Linked DNA regions of Homo sapiens. The protein of the gene in region 3 interacts with the protein of the main gene of each other region in a biochemical or structural test. Each region holds a gene or a part of one and is shown on either strand. Other genes may lie near its edges.

What was found.
Region 1: the proteins of TNFAIP6 (region 3) and BMP6 form a complex in vitro, tested with the Homo sapiens proteins (one study listed by IntAct).
Region 2: the proteins of TNFAIP6 (region 3) and ACAN form a complex in vitro, tested with the Homo sapiens proteins (one study listed by BioGRID).

What each region holds. Positions count from the first base shown.
Region 1 is NC_000006.12:7,724,465-7,728,212, forward strand, and holds the start of BMP6 (bone morphogenetic protein 6 preproprotein), read left to right. Parts: upstream 1-1,634; 5' UTR 1,635-2,491; coding exon 2,492-3,155; intron 3,156-3,748. UniProt on the Homo sapiens protein: Growth factor of the TGF-beta superfamily that plays essential roles in many developmental processes including cartilage and bone formation.
Region 2 is NC_000015.10:88,869,424-88,873,171, reverse strand, and holds part of ACAN (aggrecan core protein isoform 3 precursor), read right to left. Parts: intron 1,791-3,748; coding exon 1,632-1,790; intron 1,170-1,631; coding exon 1,087-1,169; intron 292-1,086; coding exon 147-291; intron 1-146. UniProt on the Homo sapiens protein: This proteoglycan is a major component of extracellular matrix of cartilagenous tissues. A major function of this protein is to resist compression in cartilage. It binds avidly to hyaluronic acid via an N-terminal globular region.
Region 3 is NC_000002.12:151,355,237-151,358,984, forward strand, and holds the start of TNFAIP6 (tumor necrosis factor-inducible gene 6 protein precursor), read left to right. Parts: upstream 1-2,355; 5' UTR 2,356-2,430; coding exon 2,431-2,524; intron 2,525-3,748. UniProt on the Homo sapiens protein: Major regulator of extracellular matrix organization during tissue remodeling. Catalyzes the transfer of a heavy chain (HC) from inter-alpha-inhibitor (I-alpha-I) complex to hyaluronan.

The DNA.
Region 1 (3,748 bases), on a different chromosome or scaffold from region 3:
TGCATCTCACCAGAAGTCTTATGAGGAAGGTGCAACTAGGTTTAAAAAAGGAGGCTCTTGGCAGGAAGCCTAGGTGTATTTGCTGGAATTTCAGATCTTCTGAGCAGAGCTCTTGGCTGCTGTGGGGCACTGCAGTGAATTTATGTCCCTAACATGTTCCCTACAGAAAAAAGAAGTGACAGGGCTCTTGAATTCTGAGGGTCCGGGCATCCCAGACAAAGTATCGTATTATCTTTTCGGATGGAAGAAATCCCTGTAGAGATGGTTAAAGACTGGCATTCACATAAGTTTTGTGCCCTGAAATTCATAGCTATCAGATATTTGTAGAAATAAAGACTCTTCTAAATGACCACTTGTGTCTGGGCCAAGGCAGAACTAGAAAGAAGGACTCAGTGGGTAGTTGGAGTCAGTGGTGGTCTCTATTTACCCATGAGAAATAGATTCTTGGAAATAGGATAGGAATGCTTATAAGATTTGGACCAACAGAAAGCCTATGATCTCATAAATTCATGAATCCCACAGTCTATAATCTATTTGACTTCACTCTCAAATGCCTAGGACCATTTGGACTAAGGCTGGCAAGTCAGAAAATTGCAGTTTTTATTTTCAACTCCACACAATTTTCACCAAGTAAAAAACCTTCATGTTTTACGTGAATTTGCTTCTACGATCCATAGATGACTGGATGTTCTCGGGCGGGGTAAAGGCAAATGAATTTGTGTCCTCATTGGCAAATGGTGTTGGTGGTGGTGTTATCTTGTCTAAAATCCACAGGAACCTGTGTTTCAGGACCCTGTCTATTGTCCTGACCATTCAGAATGCATGCCAAGCCCCTGCTCTTCCTGGAGTTATCTTTATCACCTCTCCTCAAGTTTTATCTTGCACCATATAAGTCACATTGTATTTCAATATTAAAATGCAACATTAATAGATAAGCTGGAGAATCAAGACATTTCCAAGAAGACAGGGGACGCCTTTTCTAATATATCGTCTGATTACACCCTCTTTCTTTTGGGTGCTAGCTTAAGAAGCCAAACCAAAGCACAAATGAACAGAGAAGTCAACACATCCGACCCCAAACCCTCAGGACGCTGGCTTGGGTTACATGTGGCCCTCTCTGTGGTCAGTTTGTGAGTAGCCTCCCCGGAGGGTGTGTCCCAACTTCCAGCAGCTGCCGTGGAAAGCCACGTGTCCGCTAAACGCCTACATTACATCAATAAGAGAAACTAAGGAAGGGATGGAAAAGCTATCATTTTTCTTTTCTTCCTCAGTTCTGGCAGTATAGTGATTTAATCGCTGTTATTATTTTTATTTAGTTAAAGCATCAACTTAGGCCTTTTAAATGATGGTAAAAGAGAAAGCTTCAGATCGGGGTATTGGTCAGATCATTCTTACTAGCGATGACCTCTTCGCCTTTGGCACCTCGCGGCTCTTCGCATGCCTCCAAGAATTCCCGGGTCTTGAAACCTACGCGCGGCGGAGGCGACGCCTCTCGGGAGAGGGAGGGTGAAAGAAGGGGCGGGGCTATTTAAATAGCCCGCGAGCTTCGCGTCCCCATTGGCTGCCAGCCTGTCGGTTACCGCGGGGCGGGGAGTCCCGGGGCTGGAGTGAGGTACCTGAGCCGGGCGCGCAGCAGAAAGCCCACGTTGGCCGCTGCGGGGAGCGCGGCGTGGAGAGGCGGGAGACCGAATTCCGGCGCCGCCGCCGCGGCCGCTGCTCGGTGCACTAGCCCCCTTCCTTCCCATCCTTTCTGCGAGCGGGTTTGCTGGGCAGCCGGGCGACCGCCGAACGGAAAGCAAGATCCTCGCCGCCTCCGCTTGAGGAGGCGTGCGGCGCGCGGAGATTTTGAGTGGGAGCGACGGTGCCCGAGAGCTCAGGGGCGCGGAGTTCGTGAGCGAGAAGGAAGTTAAACCTCGCGGAATAGACTGGCATTTCGGGACGCCTTGTCGCCGCAGCCTGGGCCCTGCAACGGGGTAAACTTCATGGTGGCCCTGCGATCTGGGGAGGGGCGTGCGCCACGGTGATGCCGGGCATCTCCCGCAGCTCGTGAGCGGCCCCGCTCCCCGCTGCCCCGGGTCCCACTCAGTCGCCAGGGAGAGCGCGGGGCAGCGCACGTGTGCGGCCAGCGAGGCCCAGAGTGACCGCGCCGCGACTCGCAGGAGCCAGGGCGCAGGCTGCAGTGCAGCCCGGACTCAGACGCACCTGGCCTGGACCGCGCGCCTCTAGAGACCTGCGCGAGGCTGTGAGGCTCCCCTTCCTCCCCTCCAAGCGGTTCTCCTGGTGATCGCCCCTTCGCCACCTCTCTAGCCTGGGCAACTGGGGGCGCCCCGGACGACCATGAGAGATAAGGACTGAGGGCCAGGAAGGGGAAGCGAGCCCGCCGAGAGGTGGCGGGGACTGCTCACGCCAAGGGCCACAGCGGCCGCGCTCCGGCCTCGCTCCGCCGCTCCACGCCTCGCGGGATCCGCGGGGGCAGCCCGGCCGGGCGGGGATGCCGGGGCTGGGGCGGAGGGCGCAGTGGCTGTGCTGGTGGTGGGGGCTGCTGTGCAGCTGCTGCGGGCCCCCGCCGCTGCGGCCGCCCTTGCCCGCTGCCGCGGCCGCCGCCGCCGGGGGGCAGCTGCTGGGGGACGGCGGGAGCCCCGGCCGCACGGAGCAGCCGCCGCCGTCGCCGCAGTCCTCCTCGGGCTTCCTGTACCGGCGGCTCAAGACGCAGGAGAAGCGGGAGATGCAGAAGGAGATCTTGTCGGTGCTGGGGCTCCCGCACCGGCCCCGGCCCCTGCACGGCCTCCAACAGCCGCAGCCCCCGGCGCTCCGGCAGCAGGAGGAGCAGCAGCAGCAGCAGCAGCTGCCTCGCGGAGAGCCCCCTCCCGGGCGACTGAAGTCCGCGCCCCTCTTCATGCTGGATCTGTACAACGCCCTGTCCGCCGACAACGACGAGGACGGGGCGTCGGAGGGGGAGAGGCAGCAGTCCTGGCCCCACGAAGCAGCCAGCTCGTCCCAGCGTCGGCAGCCGCCCCCGGGCGCCGCGCACCCGCTCAACCGCAAGAGCCTTCTGGCCCCCGGATCTGGCAGCGGCGGCGCGTCCCCACTGACCAGCGCGCAGGACAGCGCCTTCCTCAACGACGCGGACATGGTCATGAGCTTTGTGAACCTGGGTAAGGATTTGGGGTAACGTAATGACGAGAACATTTCCCCCTTTTCAGTGTCCCGGGCCCAGGGGATGGAGTGAGGGGGTGGAGGAGCTCCCGGCGCGCGGGTCCCGCCTGGTGCGCCAGAGAACGCGGGGACAGGCAGGCTGTGCTCCCGCCACCTGCGCGGCGGTGGGCGGCACATGCGCTCCCCCGCGCCGCGGGCAGGGCTGCGCGCCGAGGCCCCCAGAGGCGGCTGGCCGGCCGGGCCGCGGGGCTCCGGGAGCGCTGTCCCCAGCGGGCGTGTATTTGCGGACTCCCTGAGCACGTTCCGCGCTTTTTTTCACTTCTGCCCAGCTCTGGCCAGGTTAACTCAACTGCAGCAGGAGAGTCCAGCCCGAGTGTGGCCATCCTGGGAAGAGGGCTCTTCAGTACGATTTTCCCCTCTAAACTGCCGCCTTTTGCCCCCTAACTTGGAGTGCAGTTTTCCCACCGAGACTTTTAGGGAATCCGACAGCGGCTGGGAACTTTGAAAACTTGGCATGAGTATGTTTAGAGGTATCCACGGCACTAGGGGAGGTTGCAGAGGGAAGTCCCAAAAGGACCGCGGAAGGCGCTCG
Region 2 (3,748 bases), on a different chromosome or scaffold from region 3:
CAGCTCCAGTCTGCCTTTTGGACAAGTGAGGAGACACCAGCAGCCAGAAGACAAGGGACTCACCCCAGGCCACACAGCAAGAGCCTCACCTGTAGCTGGAGGTCTTGATCCTATCCTCCCCTGACCCCTCCCAGGCGCCAGCTTACCTGTGCCCTTTTTACACGTGAAGGGGAGGTGGTAATTGCAGGGAACATCATTCCACTCGCCCTTCTCGTGCCAGATCATCACCACACAGTCCTCTCCAGCGGCAAAAAAGTTGTCAGGCTGGTTGGGGCGCCAGTTCTCAAATTGCTGTGGGTGGGAGTGGGGAAGGAGTAAGGAGAGGGCAGGACAGTGCGGGTTGGCCTGCTCCGACTGTCTTCCCCGTGGAGCCTCTTCATCATCTCCTTTCTCTTTTAGCACCAACTTCAGGCTCATCTGATAGCAGCACAAAAACTGCTGGGAATCTGATCAGGGCTGTTCTAGGGGCCATGGAACCCGGTGGCCCTCTAGGGAATCAGTCACACAGCTTGGCTCAGGTCCTTCTCAGGAGCTCAGAACCCCCAAGACTCACAGGCTCTGTACATGAGCTGATTCCACACCTCTTATCCAGAAGGGCCAACCAGGGCTGACCACATTGGGTAGGGATGGATGGTAGGAACACAGCTCTTAAGTCCAGCTTCTGCCCACCAAGAAGTCCTCCCAAGACTTATCCTTCCAGCCTTGCTTCAGGACAAAGAGAATCACTGGGTGCCCGTACCATTCACTTGGCATCTATGTTGCTTTCTGTCTGTCTCCTTGAGTAGACTCGAGTTCAGTGTGGGCAAGAAACCTCTCTAAAGCTTCCGTATACTCCTCATGGTGGTGGCTGTTATTCCTTCATTTCCTTCCTGGCTCCTTGCCTCTTGCCATCATTAGCTCAATCTGTCCAGCCCCGGGCTGGGTTCCAGAGGCAGAGATGAAGGAGATAATCCCTGCCCTCAAGGGTTCCCGGTCCAGCAGCTGGTAAGCGGCTGTCTGCATGGGGTTTGAATGCATCTCTCTCCAGGGGTCTCTATCCCACTCCCTGTCCCCTGGGCCACCAGCTGTGCCTACAGCAGAACTCACCATGGGGTGTCCATCTGACCAGCGGAAGTCCCCTTCGATGGTCCTGTCGTTCAGGCCGATCCACTGGTAGTCTTGGGCATTGTCTGGGGAAAGGGTGAGGGTGTCAGGCATCACACTGGACACCCTGAGGGTGTCTGAGAAACTTGAGCTCACGGAGGCAGAGGGGATGGAGGAGGAAAGGAGGTGGGTGGGCTCCTAGGAGCAAGGCACGTGCTTCTCAGGTCCTCACAAGAGGCTCAGCACGTGCATGCCTGGAGTGCACTTCGGGCCACCTCTCCAAGCTGGCATGGACGGGTGACAGCCATAGCTTAGTCTTGGGCTGACTCTGGCTGGCAATGGGTCTGCCCTGGCTGCAGCCACAGCTTCTGGCCCCAAAGACCGTTGTCTTCTCTCTGGGAGCTCAGACTGTGGGAACACTGTTCCCCCTCCCCCAGGTCCCTGTCCTGCAGTCTCACGAGGCCCAAATCTGCTGCCTTCTGAAAGGTGAGGCCCTTTGCCTACACCGCCACTCTCCTCTCAGGCTCCAGAGGCCCCGCCGCACTCACTGTTGACAAACTCCTGCTCCTCGGGGGTGACGATGCTGCTCAGGTGTGACTGCTGCTCCCGACACCGGCGCTCAGCATCCACCCAGGTCTCGCGGTCCGGGAAGTGGCGGTAACAGTGGCCCTGGTACTTGTTCCAGCCCTCCTCACATACCTCCTGGTCTGCAACACAGGTCAGGGGCTTGAAGGGAGGGGCAGAGGCCACCAGGGGATGGCAGATGCTGCCAGTCTTATGGCATAGGTTCCTGCGTTCACCCCACCTTCCATGCTGTGCCCTCAAGGGAAGGGAGAGGCACAGCTGGAGGAGTTCAGGTTGGAAACTGGTCTGGTCCCTGGGAGCCTCTGCACATGCTTCCACTCGGGAAAATGCCAGGGGCCCTTTCCTTCCCTGATGCCACGCCCTCCCCCCTCACCCTCTCCCAAGCTTTCCTCCTCTTGATGCCTGCTCTGCTGGGCCGGCAGAGGTCAGCAGTCCAGTTCAAAAGAGGTGGGAAGGTGAGAGGTCTTGAGATTTAAGGCAAAACATGGTTCTGTGGCTCTGGGGGGCTCCAGGGAGAGAGGGAGTGGAGCTGTGGGGAAGTGTGTGGAGGCAGTGGAAGCTGGTAGCGCTGGGGCATGGAGCGGAGCTGGCAGTTTCCTTCCTGCAGAACCTCAGGTGGGAACAGAGGAGCAGAAATAAGTCTGCTTGGGGTCTGGAGAAGACTCAGAGCTCTAAGGCTGTTGATCAGAGTTGGCTTTAGTTAAGCACACTGTGCCTGCCTCTTGCAGGGGTCAGATAGCCCATTGGGGGTCTGGGATCCAGGGGCCCTGGCTTTTTATTTTGGGGGTGAATGGGAAGAGGGGAGGAGCTTCTCTCCTCACAAACCTAAATTCGTAATGGGTTCTCAGTCTGGAGAAGGGGCTGGCTTGGAGTTCTTGGACAGCCTAGGGGACAGGCGGAGCCATGCTGAGCTGGCTCACTCAGCTTTGAGAGAGCTCATTGTTAGTGTCTCCTCTCAACCTCGCCTTCAGTGACATCATGTTGATAGCTTTAAACTGGCCCCGGTGGAAGCATTTACACCTCAGGAATTGGCAGATGCTACAATCAGGGCTCCTTTCTCCTCTATGAGAGCTGGTTGTTAAACATCTGCCAGCACAGTGTGGGACAGAGTGAATTCCAAGGCCCCCCTTCTTCCTTCTTCCCCTGGGATCTCCCAGGTGGAGGGTCACAAACCCCTCAGGCTGCATGGTGGTCTCCCTGATTGGGTGCCACCATACTCTGGCTGTCCTGGAATGGAAGGACCAGTACCCGAGGGGAAGGAGTCTTAGGCTGAAGGGGTGGATGCTTGGCAAAGTGGGGGAGAGACAGTTGGGGACAGTGGAGGGAGAGCAGAACAGGGGGTCAGCAGCTTGAGAAGAAAGAACAGAGCTGTAGGAGGGGCCGTGGAGGCCTCTGGTGCCTCAGCTATGAATGCCTTCCCCAAGGGGTGAGGCTGCAGTCTGGAAAGAGGTGGAGAGGCCTCAGACTAGCTCAGCACTCTGAAGAGGCCAGAGATATCATCTTAGGGCTGACTTAGGGGGTCAGTTTTTGGCCCCTTCAGTGGCTAAGGGCTGAGCTGGGCAGGCAGAGCTGGAGGGTGCAACTTCTCTGGGAGGTGGGTATGGGAGGGCAGGGCTGTGCAGGCTGAAGATTCTTAGGAAACAGAAACAATTCCAGACTGAAAGAGGTAACAGGGACAGAGCCAAGGCAGGAGGCACCGTGGAGTGGTGAGGACTCAGGATTGGAATGGGAGAGGAGATGCAGCCCTGCTTAGCTGGGCCCCCAGGCCCAGGGCCGAGCTGGGTGGCTCTGTCACCATCTCTCTGCCCCATCAGGGTACAGAGCCCTGTGAGGGTCCTGCCTCCATTCCAGCAGAGCCCACTTTTCCAGTCTGGAACCAAATAGCTGTTGTCGGCATGGAAGTCCCAGACTCTTCTACCCTGTGGCAAATGTTGTGGTATCATGGGGAGAAAATCCTTGTAGTCTCTGCTTCCACCCCAGCCAAGACCCCATATACCAATTTCTTGGGGTCTTGGGGTGAGGATGGAGGGTGGGAGGCTGCAAGGGAGTAGGAGTGTCCAGGCCTTTTTTTTCCCAAAAG
Region 3 (3,748 bases):
TACAGAAGCAAGCCACCACACCCAGTTAATTTTTGTATTTTTAGTAGAGACGGGGTTTCACCATATTGGTCTGGCTGGTCTCAAACTCCTGACCTCGTGATCCTCCTGCCTCGACCTCCCAAAGTGTTGGAATTACAGGCATGAGCCACTGCATCCGGCCTGAAAGGAACTTTTATCAGTGTATCTTCTCTCAGCTCCTCATGAGGCTTATCCTGGGTGGTGTGTGCTGGAGGCTGGGCAGAGGGTGCTTCTTAGACAACTTCCAAGGTAAGTTCATAGGCAACATTTCCTTTGCTACTCTCTCTTTTCTTCTCTCTCGTCCTCAGGATTACCCTCTGCATCTTTTCCATATGAAAACCCCATTTCCTCTTTCCTTTATTGAATGCCCCTCAAAATCAGAACTTACATCATTAGGCATTATTCTCTATTTCCTTGATGATATGGAGGATGAGATTTTCAGACACTATGCAGAGGTAAGGGGAAATATTTATATTCTGCATGAGAGTTGGGAGAGGGGAGAAAGAAATCCTCCACCCCAGATCGGGTTAATTCATCAAAGCAACTCATTAAATTTTCGTGTTAAAAGAAGTTGAACATTCACACTTCGCTCTACTTGGAGCTTCATTAAAATGCAAATGAACACAGAAGGGTATCTGTTCTTAGTTATCTGGCCTAACTAAAGATTAATTGCAAACCCTTTCCTGAGAGTAATTTTTGATAAATGAGAACTAGGGGGAAATTAGGTGCTTGAGAGAGATGCAGAAAGGGCACAGCTGGAGGATGTGACAAGAAAAGAATTGGAAAGACTATGGGAAGGTTTTGCTGTAGCACTGCACAACTAAAGTTATATTTACTTCCTAAACCACAAACTTAAAATACGCATATAATTATACTTTCCAAAGAAATATCATGGTTTATTCCTTCCAACTACCTATGAATCTTGCTCTCAGTAACCATGCCTGTCTTCTCCATAGTCACACCCACCTGGTCTAAACTATACCTTTCTCTTTTGCAACAAACTTAAATTCACTAACCCTATCTGTGAACTTGGATACAATTCCCTCATCTTTCATGTGCCACCAGTCCAAAATAAAGATTTTCAATGCTAGTAACTTTATGTATACCTCAGTGAGCATCCAATAAATTCTGTACTCTCAGCCTACATCCCCATAACTGCTCTTTTGAGAAGAGATGAGACCAGAACACACCTGAGATGTTCAAAGCAAAGATGTCTAAGGGATTCAAAGCTAACTTCAAACCAGAGCATGTCTAGCAAGTTGGCTTTTTCAAAGAACTCCAACATCATTGGAGGGACTAAGAAAGCATGGGAGAAATGAATGCTATAATAGGAGTGAATGGGAAGCAATTTGAGACCAAAAGTAGAGAATCTAAGTAGCAAAAAATGACCAATTTTGTAAAAAAATCAAAAGTTGCCAATAAATGGCTATCAATGAACAATAGGAAATGCCATTAGCATCAGCGGTAGTGGGAGTATTATCAGATATGTTACCCAAGGATTCTACACAAAGGAAGAGGAAAGTTTGGGATATTTGAAGACATGATGACTTTACTGTAATAATTATTATCTATTACCTTGATCGTCTTCTTCAAAGTTAGAGTGGTCTAGGGAAGCTAGGGACAAGTTTTTATTAACTTTGTTAGTCTACCCACCTTTCTCCCAACACTTCAAGAATTTGTGGCCTGGGAAAACTGTGTTATAATAGGACATCCCAAAGCTGCTGGAACATCCTGACGCTCTGAAATTGAAATACTTTTCTGGGAGCTGATACATTTATTTAGCTGCTGACCATAACACACCAAAGACTGCAACAGACCCCACCCTGGAAGAAAAGCAGGCAGAGAATAAGGAAGTCATATATCACTGGAGAAAAATTAGGATTCTCCAAGCTGTGCATACTTTTTGTTTTAAATTTTTTACACAGGCTTGACAATGTTTAGAAAAGCCAGTCCAACATTACCAATAAAAGATTAGTGTTTAACCCCATATCCCATAATTGACACTGCAAATAAGACATTTAGGATTTATCTTGAAATTCCTACTGAAGTTCGATTTTCTTTTAATCACTGCTAAATCTGCATCAAGTTACACAAACTTTCTAACAGAAAAGTGTTTGTGACTAACAATAAATGAACTCCGTTCTTAGTAAGTTAATTTTAAAACATAGATGATCATTCTATCTCCTTAGTTTTGGTTGCCAATGCAAATGAGTCAGAGGATTTGCTTCAGACACTGAGATAATTGTGTAACTCTACAGCGGAAAATGCCATTGGAGAGTACTTGCTGACCTCACAGTTGAAAAAAACTATTTAAAAGATGTGGAAACCAGATGTTTCAGTCACATTTCAGCCACTGCTCTGAGAATTTGTGAGCAGCCCCTAACAGGCTGTTACTTCACTACAACTGACGATATGATCATCTTAATTTACTTATTTCTCTTGCTATGGGAAGACACTCAAGGATGGGGATTCAAGGATGGAATTTTTCATAACTCCATATGGCTTGGTAAGAACCTTCACTCATGAGCCTCTTGTTGAGAATGTCAATTCTTTAAATCATGGAGAAGGAAATTTAAAGCAGTAACTTTTTCTATTCTGTACAAGGCTGATGTTCTCAAAGAAAATGCTTAGGAAAGATAGCCTTTGGAATACATACGCTTTTTTTTTTTTAAGCGTTCTTGTCCTCTAAAATTTAAAAATAGCATTTTATAAAGTGAATTGTTCAGTAGAAAATAGCAGTTAATATTTATATTCAGTATGAAAATATATTTTTAAACTTTTCAAAGCAGATGTAGTAGTACAGTGAGGAGTATTTCTTTAACCAACTAGAAACTCCAATATAGTCTTCTGTTTTTATGTCAATGCATTTGCAATCAGATTTCAGAATCCTAACAGGTAAATTGGAGTCTACGAAAATTTTATAATAATTGCTTCATGGACTCTGAGCTATAGTCTATATCTTAGTTTTTTCAAACATTTTGACTATTTTGACCAAGCCAGCTTGCAGTACAGAAAAAAGTGAAAAATGTTTCTCCTTCTGAATGCATTCTTACCACTTTGATTCTTTCTGTTTCTACTATCCATATAAATACTTTTCTGACCCTTTTGTTAGACAAGGAAAGTTTCTTTTGTTATTTTGTTTTGTTAAATGTAAGGAATGAGACAGGCCAAACAGTGAAGATAAACAATAGATCAAAAAAGGAAAATGCAGAAAATCCAAAACACCCCTTAGATTACAGTATGCTAAACAATGCTTTAATTCTCATGATACAAATTGATATTGCTCTATGTTCATTATTGTGTTTAATAGTAAAAAAAAATTGAATTTCTTGGGGAAAAATGCATAGATTCTTGCATAGAATAAAGAAATAAAGAGAAGGCGAAATTAACCTAGATTTTGATTTTATGCTTTCTAAACAGCACAGTTGTAGAATATTTTCCCTTTCAGCATGTTTCTCTCTGGTAATAACTGCAACCATGCGGATTTCATTAAAAAGCCTAATTTGTAATGCACAGCCTTGCCGCCTATTTTTTTCAGCTTGAGCCAGTGAACTAATTTCACTGTGATCCATTTGGCCAAGACGGGATCTGAAATTTAGTAGAGGAATGAGCCCATCTCTTTATTTTAGTTGAATACAGTCAAATATAGGAAATACACTCATATTTGTCAGGATTTTTTTTAAATGTCATAAAGCTAGTAAGAATTAAATCCAGGCAGATAAACTTTGAA